2 separate regions of the Homo sapiens genome follow, and region 1 is linked to region 2. The links come from fine-mapping of genetic effects on gene expression. Tissue or cell type: subcutaneous fat. Region 2 holds a variant in brackets; the other region holds the start of a gene. All regions are shown on one strand. Distances are from middle to middle.

Region 1 (5,000 bases), 22 kb after region 2:
GCCTCCCCAGTAGCTTGGGCCTACAGGTGTGCACCACCACACCCAGCTAATTTTTGTATTTTTTGTAGAGACGGGGTTTCACCATGTTGGCCAGGCTGGTCTCAAACTCCTGAGCTCAAGCAATCCACCCACCTCAACCTCCCAAAGTGCTGGGATTACAGGCGTAAGCCACTGCACCTGGCTATTTTCTTTCTTTCTTTTCTTTTTTTTTTTTTTTTGAGACGGAGTTTCACTCTGTTGCCCAGGCTGGAGTGCAGTGGCGTGATCTCGGCTCACTGCAACTTCCACCTCCCGGGTTCAAGCAATTCCCTGCCTCACCCGGCTATTTTATATTTGTTGATCTGCTGCTGGTTATGCCTGTGAGCCAAATTTGTACAAATTCTTAAGCTTTACAATCATGCGTGCCTCTCTGTACGTATATTATACTTTAATTAAAAGTTATTAAAGTATTGGGGCCGAGCACAGTGGCTCACGCCTGTAATCCCAACACTTTGGGAGGCTGAGGCTGGTGCATCACCTGAGGTCAGGAGTTTAATACCAGCCTGGCCAATACAGTAAAACCCCGTCTCTACTAAAAATACAAAAAATTAGCCGGGTGTGGTGGCACACACCTGTAATCCCAGCTACTTGGGAGGCTGAGGCAGGAGAATTGCTTGAACCCGGGAGGCAGAGGTTGCAACGAGCCAAGGTCACGCCATTGCACTCCAGCCTCGGCAACAAGAGCGAGACTCCATCTCAAAAAAATAAATAAAAAATAAAAAATGTATCAGGGAGTACAAGAGAAAGTCATATAAGCTCTTTCTACTTTTCATGGTTTCTATGTCTGAACCCATGAATCTTCCTTCTGAAAGGTCCAACTTTCTTCTTTAATAACAATAATAATGGCAAAGGCATTGGGGGACCGTGAGCAAAGGGCAGGCCTTTGCAGGGGTGGGAATGGAAAGGGAAGCACGTCCCTAGAGGTGGGCCTGGGATGGGGGTTGGGGGATGAAGCAAGTGGACCTTGAAGGTCTCCACAGGTCTGAGTGTCCTATGCTCCCTGGGCCTCTCTTCCCCCAGGTCTTCTCGTTCGCAACTGCACCATCACTGCCAATGCTGAGTGTGCCTGTCGCAATGGCTGGCAGTGCAGGGACAAGGAGTGCACCGAGTGTGATCCTCTTCCAAACCCTTCGCTGACCGCTCGGTCGTCTCAGGCCCTGAGCCCACACCCTCAGCCCACCCACTTACCTTATGTCAGTGGTAAGTTCCAGGCAACTCTCTGTGCCATCACGTGGGGTAGCGGTGATACCCCAACCAGTACTCCCCACTCCTACCCCTAGATAAGGTCAGCCTGTTTCTGCCTTCCCATCCCATCCAGCACCTCTCAGGCCTTCAGATGTGCCCTATGGGGTCCCCTGCTGCTACTCATTCTGTCTCTGTTTTTCCAGAGATGCTGGAGGCCAGGACAGCTGGGCACATGCAGACTCTGGCTGACTTCAGGCAGCTGCCTGCCCGGACTCTCTCTACCCACTGGCCACGTGAGTTTTCTCCTTAATCCCCACCGCTAGAGAGAATGCATACACGAGGGGCCAGGAGGGAAGCCAGACAGAAAGCTCCTAGGATTAGGGATAAGAGGAGGGGAAAAAGCAGAGTCCACTGTTTAGGAGAGGAGTTGGCCAACGGTGGCGGGTGGGATAGAATAAGGTGGGGGAAAGGGGAGAGGCAAGGTGACAGGAGGGCTGGGCTGAGGGAGCCAAGGGCTAGACCCTCCCCTAACCCCTGTGTGTCCCCTCCTATTACAGCCCAAAGATCCCTGTGCAGCTCCGATTTTATTCGCATCCTTGTGATCTTCTCTGGAATGTTCCTTGTTTTCACCCTGGCCGGGGCCCTGTTCCTCCATCAACGAAGGAAATATAGATCAAGTAAGAGACAGAACACAGGCCTCCGGTCCTGCCCCTGCACCACACCCCACTGGCTCAACCCCACTGCCCACGCCTGGAATCTCACTGAAACCCACCAGCTCCACTTCACCAGCCTTGGTCCTACCCCTTCTCTCCCCTTAGCTGGCGTGCTCCTGACACCCCTCCCCCAAGCGCACCCGCCTCTACCCATCTCCTTCTCCCGTCTCCCCCTGCCCCCACTGCTGGCCAAGACTCATCGGATCTCCTTCTGCAGACAAAGGAGAAAGTCCTGTGGAGCCTGCAGAGCCTTGTCATTACAGCTGCCCCAGGGAGGAGGAGGGCAGCACCATCCCCATCCAGGAGGATTACCGAAAACCGGAGCCTGCCTGCTCCCCCTGAGCCAGCACCTGCGGGAGCTGCACTACAGCCCTGGCCTCCACCCCCACCCCGCCGACCATCCAAGGGAGAGTGAGACCTGGCAGCCACAACTGCAGTCCCATCCTCTTGTCAGGGCCCTTTCCTGTGTACACGTGACAGAGTGCCTTTTCGAGACTGGCAGGGACGAGGACAAATATGGATGAGGTGGAGAGTGGGAAGCAGGAGCCCAGCCAGCTGCGCCTGCGCTGCAGGAGGGCGGGGGCTCTGGTTGTAAAACACACTTCCTGCTGCGAAAGACCCACATGCTACAAGACGGGCAAAATAAAGTGACAGATGACCACCCTGCAGCTCTCCAGCTTCCTCTCTGAAATCCCAGTCCCAAAATCCAGTTTCCTGGCCGCCTCCTGGCTCAGGTCAGGATCTGGCAGAGGAGGTTTCTCAGCCGGTTATGTTGGGGCCTGCTTAAGGGCGGGGGTGAGAAAGGTCCCCAGGCTACTGTGGATCCTGTGTCTGACTTCAGATCCCCTTTTCCCACAGTTATAGCTCCACTTTTTTGGGACAGGTGGGGAGCAAAAGGGTGCAGAGGTCAGGTCTTGAAATCACCAGGGGATTTCCGGGTGAGGTGGGTGGTGAGAAAGGAAACAGCAAGCAGGGCTCTGGCAGCTGCTGCAGACGGCTTCACACAGGGACGCGGGCTGCCATCTTGCTCTAAGTGAAAGTGAAAGAAAAGTCGGCAGCAGAGGGAACAGGGAAGAAACCTAAAGGCTGCAGGCTGCCAGGTGTGCTTGGAGAGCCCCCTTCTTCCGCCGGGCCTCGCAAGCAGCGTAGGACTGTGGAGAAGGGCGGTGGGCAAGGAGGGAACTCGAGAGCAGCCTCCATGGGCACACAGGAGGGCTGGTGCCTGCTGCTCTGCCTGGCTCTATCTGGAGCAGCAGAAACCAGTGAGTCTGGGAGTCGGGGAGAGCTGGCTGGGAGAAGAGCTACTGAAGCCCCAGGGTGCCACCCTCCCCGAGATTCCAGAAGAGCAAAGGGGCCGGGGATGACCCCATCGCCTTCTAAGCCCAACAGGGGAAAGGCTCAGCGGCTGGCAAAGGAAGGAACCAATAGTGTGTGTGGAGGGAGGGTGGGGACTCCACAGGGAAAATGCTAAAGAGGGGCTGCCTCTGTGGCTGTGGTCAGGAGCCACTGTCCTACAGAGAGGGCACTGGCCTGGGAGCTGACACTTCAGAAGAGGAAAGGACTCCCCAGGTGAGGAAATCACTTGGAAGGTGACCTTGAAGGCGGGGGAGGGGAAGGCTACCCGAAATGGGAGAAAGCAGTGCAGGCTGTCAGTGCCCCAGCAACAGTAACTGTCCAGTCTCCTCTCTCTGCGGTGGCACTTGCTTGTTTTCTGAGAATTCCTTTGACTGAAAAGATAGTCTTTTATTCAACAGTTGGAAATGCAAGCATAAACTCCTCTGAGCAAGGCAAATCCAGGACTTTAACTCTCACCAAGAAGTATTTGCCTGGACTAGCAGGTGCTCTCCAGAAAGCTGGTTTGGGGATGACGGGAGAATAGAGGGACACAGAAACAGCTAGGATCTTGGATGGCAACTTTTACCCTTTGATGACTCCACAGCTTGAGGGCGGGGGCAGGAAGCAAGTGTGGAGTAGCTTTCTGGGGAAGGCGGTGCTCACCCCAGCCTTTGTCTGCAGAGCCCCACCCAGCAGAGGGGCAGTGGCGGGCAGTGGACGTGGTCCTAGACTGCTTCCTGGCGAAGGACGGTGCGCACCGTGGAGCTCTCGCCAGCAGTGAGGACAGGGCAAGGGCCTCCCTTGTGCTGAAGCAGGTGCCAGTGCTGGACGATGGCTCCCTGGAGGACTTCACCGATTTCCAAGGGGGCACACTGGCCCAAGATGACCCACCTATTATCTTTGAGGCCTCAGGTAAAAGCCTTCCACCTGTGTCCTTGGTCCTCCCGGGCTCCCTCCACCAGGACAGCCCAGGTCCCGATTACAGCCACACATACTGCCTCCCGTTGGCCCTGGTGTTCTCACGCTAATTTGCCCTCTGTGTGTGCCCTGCTTCTCCCCAGTGGACCTGGTCCAGATTCCCCAGGCCGAGGCCTTGCTCCATGCTGACTGCAGTGGGAAGGAGGTGACCTGTGAGATCTCCCGCTACTTTCTCCAGATGACAGAGACCACTGTTAAGACAGCAGCTTGGTTCATGGCCAACATGCAGGTCTCTGGAGGGGGACCTAGCATCTCCTTGGTGATGAAGACTCCCAGGGTCACCAAGAATGAGGCGCTCTGGCACCCGACGCTGAACTTGCCACTGAGCCCCCAGGGGACTGTGCGAACTGCAGGTAAGAAAATGAAAAGCAAGGCCAGGTGTGGTGGCTCACGCCTGTAATTCCAGAATTTTGGGATACCGAGGTCGGTGGATCACCTGAGGTCAGGAGTTTGAGATCAGCCTGGTCAACACGGTGAAACCCCGTCTCTACTAATACCAAAATTAGCCGGGCATGGTGGCGGGTGCCTGTAATCCCAGCTACGAGGGAGGCTGAGGCAGGAGAATCGCTTGAACCCGGAAGGCAGAGGTTGCGGTGAGCCGAGATCACACCATGGCACTTCAGCCTGGGCAACAAGAGCGAAACTCCATCTCAAAAAAAAAAAAGAAAAGAAAAGAAAAGCAAGTCACAGAAAGTTTTGCTTTTCTAAAGTGGTAAGATATGGGGCACAGAAGAAGAAAGGGAACAAATC
Region 2 (7,998 bases):
ATGTATAATTGCCGGGCATGGTGGCTCATGCCTGTAATCCTAGCACTTTGGAAGACTGAGGCGGGCAGATCGCTTTGAGCCCAGGAGTTCAAGACCAGCCTGGACAACCTGGTGAAACCCTGTCCCTAGTAAAAATGCAAAAACTAGCTGGGCTTCATGGCGTGCGCCTGTAGTTCCAGCTACTCGGGAGGCTGAGGTGGGAGGACTGCTTGAGGCGAGGAGTTCGAGGCTACAGTGAGCCGTGATCACACCACTACACTCTAGCCTGGGCAACAGAGCCAGACCCTGTCTCACAAAACAAAAGAAACAAACAAACCACACAAACTTGCAACATCCTGCTTCTTGCAGCTCTCCCCATCCGGCCCACCCCATTCCTTTGGCGTGAAAATATGATGGGGTCTCCTCAGCCCTAGAAGCACCCACACCGTTCAACCTAAAGCTCCCACTGACTAGCTGAGCTCTCATAAAGGTGAGATTTGTCGCATACGCCTCCCATACACCTCTTCCTAGTAGATTTCTTCACTCTTTCCCTTCCATTCTGAGCACGGCCCCACTTAAGGAACTCTCAGCTCTCATGTTGCCCTATCCCAGTCAAGAAGGAAGTTGCTGGTGATCAAGTCATACTCCAGTGAACACTGACTGGCACCTCTTCTGCATCAAGTCCTAGCAGGGCATTCACCCGAGTTACCAAACATGGCTGCTCACACCCGCCCTCCGAGGCCAGCATCTGCATCCCCATGTGACAGTGGAAACAAACCCACGGAGCCTGAGCAACTGGGCAGCCAGCAAGTGACTGAGCAGAGAGACGGCCTTGGACGCAGGCCAAGCAGCACAGATTTACTCGAATCATCCTCCGCTCCTTCAGATTTTCACCAGCTGATTGATCCTTGGACTTCCCCCCCAGGCTTCTCTGACATCACCAGCCACCAGGACCCTGCCTATGCCTGTGGCCTGCAACATTCCTCTATGCACATCAAAGTAGGGAGCATCAGGCCGGGTGCGGTGGCTCACACCTGTAATCCTAGCACAATGAAAGACCGAGGTGGGCAGATAACTTGAGACCAGGAGTTCAAGACCAGCCTGGCCAACACGGCGAAACCCCATCTCTACTAAAAATACAAAACAATTAAGCAGGGATGATGGTGTGTGCCTGGGGTCCCAGCTACTTGGGAGGCTGAGGCATGAGAATTGTTTGAACCCGAACCCAAGGCTGAGGCAGAAGTTGCAGTGAGCCAAGATCGCGCCACTGCACTCCAGCCTGGGTGAGAGAACTCCAGCCTGGGTGACAGAGGGAGGCTCCATCTCCCAAAAAACAAAACAAAACAAACAAACAAAAAAAACAAGTAGACAGCATCAATTCTGGCCAACTTATGGGTAAAAGAGAAGGCTGCCACAGCCCTTGCCCTTTGGGAGTGCCTGTCCCTTCAGTAGCTGCCCCAAAAATCCTGCAGAAGAGAAGGGTCAGAGGAAGCACCTGTAATAAAGGGTGAGGCCCCACCAACCCACTCTCTTCCTCTCCTCTCCTAGCCGAGGGAGCCATCAGAGGCAAAGGGAGTGTGGGAAAGATTAGTCAGACATGTTTCCCTTTGTGTCACAGAGTCAAACTCTCCATCCGTGACTTCAGAAAAGTCACAAGAGAGCCCCAGCAACGGCCCACAGGGTGTCATAGCAACACGCCTACACCTCAAGGTGCCACCTTCCAACTCTGGAGAAAACAACTGCCTTCTTCAAATGTCAACTGCTACATGGGCAAAGAGCAACTTGAAAATGAAATTCGGGGCTGGGCGCAGTGGCTCACACCTGTAATCATTTTGAGAGTCCAAGGCGGGTGGATCACTTGAGCCCAGGAGTTCCAGACCAGCCTGGGCAACATGGCAAAACCACATGTCTTCAAAAAAATACAAAAAGTAGACAGGCATGATGGCATGCACCTGTAGTCCCAGCTACTCGGGAGGCTGAAGTGGGAGGATCACTTGAACCCGGGAAGTGCAGGCTGCAGTGAGCCGAGGTTGCACCACTGCACTCCCCACTCAGTCTGGGTGACAGAGCGAGACACTGTCTAAAAAAAAAAAAAGAAGAAGAAAAAAAGAAAGAAAGAAAATGAAATTGAAATTAGGGGCCGGGCACAGTGGCTCATGCTTGTAATCCTAGCACTTTGGGAGGCCGAGGCAGGCGGGATCACCTGAGGTCAGGAGTTTGAGACCAGCCTAACCATGATGGTAAAACCCAGTCTCTACTAAAAACACAAAATTAGCTGGGCATGTGTGGCGCATGCCTGTAATCCCAGCTATTCAGGAGGCTGAGGCAGGAGAATCACTTGAACCCAGGAGGTGGAGATTGCAATGAGCCGAGACTGCGCCATTGCACTCCAGCCTGGGCAACAAGAGCGAAACTCCATCTCAAAAAAAAAAAAAAATGAAATTAGGAAAAACAACTCAATTTACAATAGCATCAAAAAGAATAAATACTTAGGCATACATTGGCCAGGTGCGGTGGCTCACATCTGTAATTCCCACATTTTGGGAGGCCAAGGCAGGCGGATCACCTGAGGTCAAGAGTTCGAGACCAGACTGGCCGACATGATAAAACCCTGTCTCTACTAAAAATACAAAAAATTAGCCAGGCGTGGTGGCAGGCACCTATAATCCCAGCTACTCGGGAGGCTGAGGCTGCAGAATCGCTTGAACCTGGGAAGCAGAGGCTGCAGTGAGCTGAGATTGGGCCGCTGCACTCCAGCCTGGACAACAGAGTGAGACTCTGTCTCGAGAAAAAAAAAAAAAAACTTGGTATACATTTAACAAAGAAAGTGCAAGACTCATACACTGAAAACTAGAAAACATTGTTGAAAGACATTAAAGAAATCCTAAATAAATGGAAAGACATCTGTGTTCATGGACTGAAGGTAACAATATTTCCCAATTTCATCTACAGACTCTATGCAATCCCCATCGAAATTCTAACTGCCTTCTTTTTTGCATAAATGGACAAGCTGATCTTAAAATTCACATGCAAATGCAAGGGACACAGAGTAGCCAAAATAATTTTGAAAAAGAAGAACGAAGTTGAAGTCCCAATTTCGAAACTTACTATAAAGCTACAGTAATCAAAACCATGGTATTGACCTAAAGACAGACATACAGATCAATGGAATACAATTTAGAGTCCAGAAATCAACCCATACATCTATTGTCAATTAATTTCAGCAAGGGTGCCAAGACCATTCTGTGTGAAAAGAATAGTCTTTTCAAGAAGCAGTGCTAGGACAACTGCATATCCACAAGTAAAAGAATGAAGTTGGACCCCTACCTAAAACCAGATAAAAAATTTAACTCAAAATAAATCAAAGAACTAAATTTAAGAGTTAAAACTATAAAACTCTTAGAGGGAAATATAAGTGAAAATCTGTATGAGTTTGGATTCGGCAACAGTTTCTCAAATATGATGCCAAAAGCACAGGCAACAAAAGAAACAGTAGATAAACTGGACTTCATCAAAATGTGAAACTTTTTTTTTTTTTTTTGAGACGGAGTCTCGCTCTGTCTCCCAGGCTGGAGTGCAGTGGCGTGATCTCTGCTCACTGCAAGCTCCGCCTCCTGGGTTCACGCCATTCTCCTGCCTCAGCCTCCCGAGTAGCTGGGACTACAGGCGCCCGCCACCACGCCCGGCTAATTTTTTGTATTTTTAAGAGACGGGGTTTCAGCATATTGGCCAGGCTGGTCTCCATCTCCTGACTTCGTGATCCGCCCGCCTTGGCCTCCCAAAGTGCTGGGATTACAGGCATGAGCCACCATGCCCGGCCCAAAATGTGAAATTTTTATGCATCAAAGGGCACTATTAAGAAGGTAAAAAGACAACCCACAGTATGGGATAAATTTTTTTTTTTTTTTTTCTGAGACGGAGTCTCGCTCTATCGCCCAGGCTGGAGTTCAGTTGTGCGATCTCGGCTCACTGCAAACTCTGCCTCCCGGGTTCCACACCATGCTCCTGCCTCAGCCTCCCGAGTAGCTGGGACTACAGGCGCCCGCCACAACGCCTGGCTAAATTTTTTTTTTTTTTTTTTTTAATTTTTAGTAGAGACGGGGTTTCACTGTGTTAGCCAGGATGGTCTCGATCTCCTGACCTCGTGATCTGCCCGCCTCGGCCTCCCAAAGTGCTGGAATTACAGGTGTGAGCCCCCGCCCCGGGCCAGAGAAAATATTTTCAAATCACTTATCTAGTAAGGTCTAGAATTCATAATATCAAAAAGAAAAAAAAAAAAACTCTTGCAACTCAGCAACAAAAGACACAAATAATTTAATTTAAACACGGGCAAAGGACTTGAA[C/T]AGACATTTCTCCAAAGAAAATATACAAATGGCGATGAGCACATAAGAAGATTCTCAACATCATTAGTCTTAGTGAAATACAAATCAAAACCACAATAAGATACCACTTCACACCAACTAGGGTAGTTATAACTTTTTCAAAAATAGAAATGTATCTGTGATATTTGCACATCTTTGTGAATATAGTAAAAGCACTGAATTGCACATTTTTAAATGATGAAAATGATTCATTTTATCTCAGTAAAAGTCTAGCCACTGAATTGTACATTTTTAAATTATTAAAATGATTCATTTCATCTCAGTAAAAGTCAACAGGCACCAGGGATCCCTTCAGTTTGGGCTGGAGGTCAGTGCAGTTTGGGGGGTCATCAAATGCTGAAGCAGAAGGAGTTTAGGGGTCACGCAAGTCCCAGCTGCCGTGTGACAAGTGAGGTAAAGGACACACCCTCTGTGGAGGTCTGAAGTCCCCTGACATTAGTAAGGGAGGGACAGCAGAGATCTCCCCTGTCACCACGAGGCTTTTTTCAGCCCCCAGGGCAGATGGCAAGTGTATACCATGTTTGGCACCCCTGTGATTGGCAGAGGCAATGCAGGTTGGGTCTGGAGGACAAGATTGCTGTGGGGGAGAGCCAAGGGTGGACTTCAGAACACTGGTGGTGACATAAGGGTAAAAAGGCCTTGGTCACAAAAGAGGAAACACAAACAGCGCGATCATGGAAAGACGCTCAGCCTCCCCGGGAATGGGAAGAGTGCACACTGAAACAATGAGACAGCACTTTCCTCCAATGAGATGCTCAAAAACAGTTTGCTAATACGAAAGCCTGGCAGGACGTGAGGAAATATGTGCTATCATTCCACTGCTGGTGGGAGTGTGAATTGGTAGGGCCACTCTGGAGGGCAACTCGCCAGCATCTGTTAAAGTGAAAAATGTGCACACCCTGTGACTCAGCGATTCCGATGCCCCGCACTTATTCTAGAGAGACACTCCCACATGCACAGCGAAGTATGAGATGTTTATGCAACACCACTTACGATAGTGCATTGTTGGGAACAACCTAAGTATTCGGGAACCAGGAGAATGGCTAAAAAGCCTCTGCACATCCATTCTCTATTTAACGAAACGAGTAGTTCTAGAAGTATAAAATGAAATGATCTCCAAGACATATAACTGGATTAAAAGCACGAAAAGCAAATCGTAGGATACATACTGTATATCATTTATGGAAAGAACAAAACAAACACAAAAATACAACTGTGCTGGGGCCGATGGACAATTGTGCCTGGCAGGCTGAGTCATGAGGCCAGTTAACAAGCCTTTCTCTATCTGCAAAAAGAAGTACTTTAGAAAAGCAATATAAGAAGAACATGGACCAGGGGCAGTGGTTCATGCCTGTAATCTCAGCACTTTGAGAGGCTGGGGTGGAAGGATTTCTTGAGGCCAGGAATTTGAGACCAGCCTGAGAAACATAAAGAGACCCAGTCTCTACATAAAATTAAAAATCAGTCAGGCGTGGTAGTGTGCACCTCTGGTCCTAGATACTCTGGAGGCTGAGGTAGAAAGATCTCTTGAGCCCAGGAATTCGAGGCTACAGTGAGCCATGATTGTGCCACTGCACTCCAGCCTGGGTGAGTAAGCAAGGCTGTCTCTAAAACACAAAAAGAAGAAGAACATGGAACTGCCAGACTTGGGCTATTTCATTTCCCAGAGATAATTTTTTACCGAGTGGAGAGAAAATGGGTGGTTTGTTCCTTAGGCTCTATTTCTTGCTCTGTGCTAGAATTATCGCAGCTTTGTGTAAGATTTCCTTCAGCAAATATAGGTAGCCTGCGATGCCCCAAATAAGAAAGGAAAAGACAAAGTCAGATGTTACTGCTGTCGGTCATCTCAGGTATGAAAAAGAGAGGCAGGCCCCTTGCCAGGGAGAAGGAACAACCAGATGCTGTCCATGAGGCACTCTCCTACCTCTCCTAAGACAGGGGTCGCCCTTGCTCTGAAAAATTCAAGCAGAGAATCCTCAGGAGGAGTGGGGCCAAGAAATCAGAGTAAGAAATATTTGATTATTGCTTAATAACATTTTAAGTAGAAAATAAAATAATTTTTTAAAACAGGCTGGCCGGGCGTGGTGGCTCACGCCTGTAATCCCAGCACTTTGGGAGGCTGAGGCAGGTGGATCACGAGGTCAGGAGATCGAGACCATCCTGGCCAACATAGCAAAACCCCATCTCTACTAAAAATACAAAAATTAGCTGGGCATGGTGGCATGCACCTGTAATTCCAGCTACTCGGGAGGTTGATGCAGGAGAATCGCTTGAACCTGGGAGGCGGAGGTTGCGGTGAGGCAAGATCATGCTATTGCACTCCAACCTGGTGACAGAGCGAGACTCTGTCTCAAAACAAAAACAAAAACAAACAAACAAACAAACAGGCCGGGCATAGTGGCTTACGCCTATAATCCCAGCACTTCAGGAGGCCGAGATGGGCGGATCACCTGAGGTCAGGAGTTCAAGACCAGCCTGACCAACATGGTGAAACCCTATGTCTACTAAAATATAAAAATTAGCCAGATGTGGTGGGGGGCGCCTATAATCTCAGCTACTCGGGAGGCTGAGATGGGAGAATTGCTTGAACCCAGGAGGTGAAGGTTGCAGTGAGCCGAGATCATGCCATTGCACTCCAGCCTGGACAACAAGAGCGAGACTCCACCTCAAAAAATAAGAAGGAAAGAAAATAATTTTTAAAAACATAAACATATGCCTACCACAGTGGCTCATGCCTGTAATCTCAGCACTGTGGGAGGCTGAGACAGCTGGATCAATTGAGGTCAGGAGTTCAAGACCAGCCTGGCCAACATGGTGAAACCCCATCTCTACTAAAAATACAAAAATTAGCCGGGTGTGCACACCTGTGGTCCCAGCTGCTTGGGTGGCTGAGGCAGGAGAATCACTTGAACCCAGGAGGTGGAGACTGCAGTGAGCTGAGAATGTGCCACTGCACTCCAGCCTTGGCAACAGAGACTCTGTCAAAAAACAAAAACAAAAACAAAAAACAAAAAACACCCACAACAACACACATAACTTTTTTGTCTAGGAAAGTTCTGGAAGAATACTCAATAATCTGAAAACAGTGCCTACACTAAGGAGGTAGGGAGAGGACCAGGGATTGGGGGAGGAGATTGATCAAAGGGAACCTGAGTCTTCTCTATAATTTTCCATTTTTTTTCATTTTCACCTCCAATTTTTAAAATATAATTTGTACTTTTTATTGTGAACTAAGATATGTAAAATAGTACATAAAAATAACACATTGAAAACCCACGTTCAGATCAGAAGATTAGTAGAACCTTCGAAGCGCCCTGATCACACCTTCCCTCCTCACCGGGGGAAGCAGCTCTGGCTTGTGTCTATCACTTCCTCACTTTCCTTTCTAGTTCTACCATCTGTGTGCACCCTGAACAGCAAACTGCTTCATTTTGCCTGTTTTTGAACTTTATAAATGGAATCGTATGTACTTTTCTATGCCTTGCTTCTGTGTGTTTGTGCACTATCACTTAACATGTTTTTCTATCTATTTATTTATTTATATTGTGGTAAAATATACATAAAATTTACCATTTAAACTATTTTTAAATGTATAATTCAGGGGGCATGAAGTACATTCACGATGTACAATATTATA

The links. PIP is the estimated chance that this variant, and not a neighbour inherited with it, causes the effect.
Region 1: CD27-AS1 starts here. The variant in region 2 is fine-mapped to the expression of CD27-AS1 in subcutaneous fat (FUSION, PIP 0.95).

What each region holds. Positions count from the first base shown.
Region 1 is chr12:6,449,114-6,454,113 of GRCh38, forward strand. CD27-AS1 (CD27 antisense RNA 1) reads right to left here and starts at 2,404. Exons shown (of 6, transcript NR_015382.2): 1 at 1,228-2,404. CD27 (CD27 molecule) reads left to right here. Exons shown (of 6, transcript NM_001242.5): 3 at 1,060-1,239; 4 at 1,428-1,517; 5 at 1,782-1,901; 6 at 2,155-2,600. The coding sequence ends at 2,279. It overlaps TAPBPL (TAP binding protein like), which reads left to right and starts at 2,929. Exons shown (of 7, transcript NM_018009.5): 1 at 2,929-3,199; 2 at 3,954-4,184; 3 at 4,334-4,603. The coding sequence starts at 3,136. RefSeq lists enhancers at 1,739-1,948, 2,039-2,198, 2,629-3,228.
Region 2 is chr12:6,425,480-6,433,477 of GRCh38, forward strand. No RefSeq gene overlaps it. Among named protein-coding and RNA genes, the nearest start is that of CD27, 15 kb to the right of the region's middle. RefSeq lists enhancers at 1,349-1,458, 1,499-1,738. The variant C/T (reference allele first, on the strand shown) is at 4,323.